2 linked regions of the Homo sapiens genome follow. The protein of the gene in region 1 interacts with the protein of each later gene in a pairwise test. Each region holds a gene or a part of one and is shown in the gene's direction. Other genes may lie near its edges. The genes, in order: FOXA1 and SEZ6L2.

Region 1 (3,521 bases):
GGGGCCGGCCTGAGTCCCGGCGCAGTAGCCGGCATGCCGGGGGGCTCGGCGGGCGCCATGAACAGCATGACTGCGGCCGGCGTGACGGCCATGGGTACGGCGCTGAGCCCGAGCGGCATGGGCGCCATGGGTGCGCAGCAGGCGGCCTCCATGAATGGCCTGGGCCCCTACGCGGCCGCCATGAACCCGTGCATGAGCCCCATGGCGTACGCGCCGTCCAACCTGGGCCGCAGCCGCGCGGGCGGCGGCGGCGACGCCAAGACGTTCAAGCGCAGCTACCCGCACGCCAAGCCGCCCTACTCGTACATCTCGCTCATCACCATGGCCATCCAGCAGGCGCCCAGCAAGATGCTCACGCTGAGCGAGATCTACCAGTGGATCATGGACCTCTTCCCCTATTACCGGCAGAACCAGCAGCGCTGGCAGAACTCCATCCGCCACTCGCTGTCCTTCAATGACTGCTTCGTCAAGGTGGCACGCTCCCCGGACAAGCCGGGCAAGGGCTCCTACTGGACGCTGCACCCGGACTCCGGCAACATGTTCGAGAACGGCTGCTACTTGCGCCGCCAGAAGCGCTTCAAGTGCGAGAAGCAGCCGGGGGCCGGCGGCGGGGGCGGGAGCGGAAGCGGGGGCAGCGGCGCCAAGGGCGGCCCTGAGAGCCGCAAGGACCCCTCTGGCGCCTCTAACCCCAGCGCCGACTCGCCCCTCCATCGGGGTGTGCACGGGAAGACCGGCCAGCTAGAGGGCGCGCCGGCCCCCGGGCCCGCCGCCAGCCCCCAGACTCTGGACCACAGTGGGGCGACGGCGACAGGGGGCGCCTCGGAGTTGAAGACTCCAGCCTCCTCAACTGCGCCCCCCATAAGCTCCGGGCCCGGGGCGCTGGCCTCTGTGCCCGCCTCTCACCCGGCACACGGCTTGGCACCCCACGAGTCCCAGCTGCACCTGAAAGGGGACCCCCACTACTCCTTCAACCACCCGTTCTCCATCAACAACCTCATGTCCTCCTCGGAGCAGCAGCATAAGCTGGACTTCAAGGCATACGAACAGGCACTGCAATACTCGCCTTACGGCTCTACGTTGCCCGCCAGCCTGCCTCTAGGCAGCGCCTCGGTGACCACCAGGAGCCCCATCGAGCCCTCAGCCCTGGAGCCGGCGTACTACCAAGGTGTGTATTCCAGACCCGTCCTAAACACTTCCTAGCTCCCGGGACTGGGGGGTTTGTCTGGCATAGCCATGCTGGTAGCAAGAGAGAAAAAATCAACAGCAAACAAAACCACACAAACCAAACCGTCAACAGCATAATAAAATCCCAACAACTATTTTTATTTCATTTTTCATGCACAACCTTTCCCCCAGTGCAAAAGACTGTTACTTTATTATTGTATTCAAAATTCATTGTGTATATTACTACAAAGACAACCCCAAACCAATTTTTTTCCTGCGAAGTTTAATGATCCACAAGTGTATATATGAAATTCTCCTCCTTCCTTGCCCCCCTCTCTTTCTTCCCTCTTTCCCCTCCAGACATTCTAGTTTGTGGAGGGTTATTTAAAAAAACAAAAAAGGAAGATGGTCAAGTTTGTAAAATATTTGTTTGTGCTTTTTCCCCCTCCTTACCTGACCCCCTACGAGTTTACAGGTCTGTGGCAATACTCTTAACCATAAGAATTGAAATGGTGAAGAAACAAGTATACACTAGAGGCTCTTAAAAGTATTGAAAGACAATACTGCTGTTATATAGCAAGACATAAACAGATTATAAACATCAGAGCCATTTGCTTCTCAGTTTACATTTCTGATACATGCAGATAGCAGATGTCTTTAAATGAAATACATGTATATTGTGTATGGACTTAATTATGCACATGCTCAGATGTGTAGACATCCTCCGTATATTTACATAACATATAGAGGTAATAGATAGGTGATATACATGATACATTCTCAAGAGTTGCTTGACCGAAAGTTACAAGGACCCCAACCCCTTTGTCCTCTCTACCCACAGATGGCCCTGGGAATCAATTCCTCAGGAATTGCCCTCAAGAACTCTGCTTCTTGCTTTGCAGAGTGCCATGGTCATGTCATTCTGAGGTCACATAACACATAAAATTAGTTTCTATGAGTGTATACCATTTAAAGAATTTTTTTTTCAGTAAAAGGGAATATTACAATGTTGGAGGAGAGATAAGTTATAGGGAGCTGGATTTCAAAACGTGGTCCAAGATTCAAAAATCCTATTGATAGTGGCCATTTTAATCATTGCCATCGTGTGCTTGTTTCATCCAGTGTTATGCACTTTCCACAGTTGGACATGGTGTTAGTATAGCCAGACGGGTTTCATTATTATTTCTCTTTGCTTTCTCAATGTTAATTTATTGCATGGTTTATTCTTTTTCTTTACAGCTGAAATTGCTTTAAATGATGGTTAAAATTACAAATTAAATTGTTAATTTTTATCAATGTGATTGTAATTAAAAATATTTTGATTTAAATAACAAAAATAATACCAGATTTTAAGCCGTGGAAAATGTTCTTGATCATTTGCAGTTAAGGACTTTAAATAAATCAAATGTTAACAAAAGAGCATTTCTGTTATTTTTTTTCACTTAACTAAATCCGAAGTGAATATTTCTGAATACGATATTTTTCAAATTCTAGAACTGAATATAAATGACAAAAATGAAAATAAAATTGTTTTGTCTGTTGTTATAATGAATGTGTAGCTAGTAAAAAGGAGTGAAAGAAATTCAAGTAAAGTGTATAAGTTGATTTAATATTCCAAGAGTTGAGATTTTTAAGATTCTTTATTCCCAGTGATGTTTACTTCATTTTTTTTTTTTTTTTTGACACCGGCTTAAGCCTTCTGTGTTTCCTTTGAGCCTTTTCACTACAAAATCAAATATTAATTTAACTACCTTTCCTCCTTCCCCAATGTATCACTTTTCTTTATCTGAGAATTCTTCCAATGAAAATAAAATATCAGCTGTGGCTGATAGAATTAAGTTGTGTCCAACGGAGACTCATGAACTCTCTTCTCATTAAAAGAGAAACGAAACTTAGCCATCAGGGTAGCTCTGGAGGAGGTGGGAGGAGGGGAGTTAATTCACTCTCGCAGGGGAAGCGTTGTACCGACAGGACATTTTAGGGTAGCCGCTATTTTGCATTTTGTGAAGATTGTTTTAAATTTTGATTCAAAAATGTCGTTCCTAAGAACTTAAAGTTGATAATTTGTTTCCTTCTAAGGAGCTTTTAAATGCAACTTCACACTCCATAGTTGCTTGGGATCACAAAATCATTAATCTCCTTTGATAGCAGGCTCACTTTCCAGTCCACCTATTTCTTTGTAAGTCTTGTTCGGATTGACATCAACAATAACAACACCAGCTCAAGCAGAGGCCTGCCTGCCTGAGCCCTTGTGTATGAACTCCATCCTCACCAGGGCTTGAACTTGGACAGCCTTTACTTTGATCGCCCCACTCCACACCGCGGACAAGATAAAAAGAGCCGTGTGAGTCGCTTAA
Region 2 (2,769 bases), on another chromosome or scaffold:
TGGACCAGCCAGCCCCCACTCTGCAAAGGTGCCTGGCCAGACAGGGCAGGAGGGGCACACCAGTGTCCGGGAAGTGACAGGGCTGGGAGAGTCAGGTAGCACATTTGAGACCAATGGGCGACCCCACAGAGCTCCCGGTTCTCCTCCTGTGGCCTCGTGTCCTCACGGGTGTGTCCAGAAGCCCTGGGTCGTGTGAGGTCATGGGATTGGCTCAGGGGTGTAGTAGAGGGGGCCTTGGCTTGGAAGTCCCTTGCTCTGAATAGGCCTCAGTTTCCCTATCGCTGACAAGTTCTAGTTTGGCTCAGACTGTCCAGGAACCCTGACTTTTTAGGGGTCTGGAGAAAGAGGACAAAGGCCCTGTGCTGGTCACTCCTCTCTCTTCCCCACAAAGGGAGAAAGTTGAGGTTGAGCAGAGGGCAGAGAGAACCAGGCTGTCCAGCCCAGCCCCACCGGGCTCCCGGCCCCTCCCAGCCTCCTCCCCTCCCTGGCTCAGACCCCATCCCCTCCCCCTCCTCTCCCTGCAGTTGCCTATGAGGAGCTCCTGGACAACCGAAAACTGGAAGGTCAGTGAGAGCACAGGTGGAGACCCAGGCTGGCCAGGTTGGGAGGGCAAGGCAGAGGCTGGGGCAGGAGGCCAGGCCTTGGAGGGATGAAGCCCAGGGTTTGAGGCCCAGGGCAGGAGGCTGGGAGAGCCCAGGACCGGGCCCAGCCACAGCTCACCGGCCTCTCCTCCTCCTGTAGTGACCCAGACCACAGATCCATCACGGCAGCTGGAAGGGGGGAACCTGGCCCTGGCCATCCTGCTGCCTCTAGGCTTGGTCATTGTCCTCGGCAGTGGCGTTTACATCTACTACACCAAGTAAGTAGCCTGCTTGGGGACTGCCGGCCAGGGCAGACGTCTTGCGAGCCTGGCACTGGAGCCTGGGTCAGGGGAGCTCAGGGGCTTACCTGTTGATAAGCTCCTCTGTCCTCTCCCTTTCCCAGGCTTCAGGGAAAGTCCCTTTTCGGCTTCTCGGGCTCCCACTCCTACAGCCCCATCACCGTGGAGTCGGACTTCAGCAACCCGCTGTATGAAGCTGGGGTAAGCACCTTGCCTGCCCCTGAAGAGCCACCACTTGGCTCTCCCAGGACTCCATAACCTTCTCGCAAGGTCTCTGGAATCTCTGTCTTGGGAATTTCAAACTCAGCTGCCCCCAGAGGCCATGTCAATGAGCATAGCAAGCCATGTGTATACAATAGGGAGTGGTGAGGACTGTGGCTAAGTGGAGGACTTGTGCCCCATCTCAAGAATACGGCTCTACCCCATAGTCGAAACTGAGGCACAATTGGCAGATCTTCCAATTATTCAAGACAAGCCAGAAATTCAGATTTTTGTGTCATTTTACGACACCGTAGGATGAACCAAACACATTCACTGGCCCCCCAGCCCCTAGAGGTCAATGTTACTTTAAAACCCAGGATCGTTGCCCCTCCTCCCATTCGGCTGCCTCTTCCACCCCTATCAGACTCCAACAACTGACCTGATCTCTCTGTCTTCAGGATACGCGGGAGTATGAAGTTTCCATCTGAACCCCAAGACTACAGCTGCAGGACCCAGGACGCCCCTCCCCTCCTCATTCGGGCAGAGGGAAATACGGGACCCGGTCTCTGCCTCCTGGCTGCCCTCCTCCCTGGCTGTGTAAATAGTCTCCCTATCCCACGAGGGGGCTTTGATGGCCCTGGAGATCCTACAGTAAATAAACCAGCATCCTGCCGCCCAAAGCCGCCTCTTCTCAGTTGCCAAACGAGGGGCCTGCCCCCCGCCCTACCGGCTTTTGGATTCTGGGAGGGGAACTCTGCCTCCCTGCAAATCTTGCAGCCCCTCCTGCCCAGGGCACCCCTCAAGGACTGCCCCCGATAGCTCTACTGTTCCCTTGGCCACGAAGGTGCCCCCCTCCCAGATGCCCTGGCCCTAGGCCTGACTCCGGCCAGGAGGGTCAGAAGAAGGACAAAGGGGAGAGCTGGGACAAGGCCTTGCCCCCTTCCTGCCATCTCCCCAACCCACAGTCTCTCCACCTTTGCTTCTGAATTCTTGTTTTTGAGCAATAAACAGAAAATCGCCACTTGTAATTGGGCCGGTGGAGTGTGGGGAGGTGGTCACCGAGCACTGGACCACTTCTCTGGAGAGAGGGCTGGGGAAAGGGGAACAATTTGAAAAAAAAAAAAAAAAAGGAAATGCGAAAGTGGGCAGAGGGCAGTGTCCGGGGGCCTGGCCTGAGGTAAAAAAGCCTGGCTTTAGGCTCAGCCTCTGTGAAGGCCTCCCTGCGACCAGCCTCACTCCAGGACGCAGTGACCTCTCCACCAGGCCTTCCTTGACATTGTGGGCCTCTTCCAGATGGGAGAGAACTGACAGGAGCCACCCGTCTTCTCTCGCTGCTGGGCAGGAGGCAAACAGCTTTCAATTTCTTTCTTTTTAGAGACAGGGCCTGGCTCTGCCGGCCAGGCTGGAATGCAGTGGTGCCATCACAGCTCACTGCAACCTCAAACTCCTAGGTTCAAGGGATCCTCCCGCCTCAGCATCCTGAGTAGCTGGGACTACAGGTGCAAGCCATGGTGCCTGCCTAATTTTTAAATTTTTTGTAGAAATGAGATCTTGTTACGCTGCCCGGGCTGGTCTCGAACACCTGGCCTCAAGCAATCCTCCTTCCTCAACTTCCCAAAGTTCTGGGATTACAGGCGTGAGCCACCAAGCCTGGCTTTTCAATTTGTCTTATGACCAGTTTGCCTAAA

Evidence for each region.
Region 2: the proteins of FOXA1 (region 1) and SEZ6L2 interact in a two-hybrid assay, tested with the Homo sapiens proteins (one large-scale study listed by BioGRID and IntAct).

The regions. Positions count from the first base shown.
Region 1 is NC_000014.9:37,589,044-37,592,564, reverse strand, and holds the end of FOXA1 (hepatocyte nuclear factor 3-alpha), read left to right. Parts: coding exon 1-1,200; 3' UTR 1,201-3,013; downstream 3,014-3,521. UniProt on the Homo sapiens protein: Transcription factor that is involved in embryonic development, establishment of tissue-specific gene expression and regulation of gene expression in differentiated tissues.
Region 2 is NC_000016.10:29,870,499-29,873,267, reverse strand, and holds the end of SEZ6L2 (seizure 6-like protein 2 isoform 5 precursor), read left to right. Parts: coding exon 1-28; intron 29-524; coding exon 525-563; intron 564-741; coding exon 742-859; intron 860-984; coding exon 985-1,081; intron 1,082-1,539; coding exon 1,540-1,569; 3' UTR 1,570-2,109; downstream 2,110-2,769. UniProt on the Homo sapiens protein: May contribute to specialized endoplasmic reticulum functions in neurons.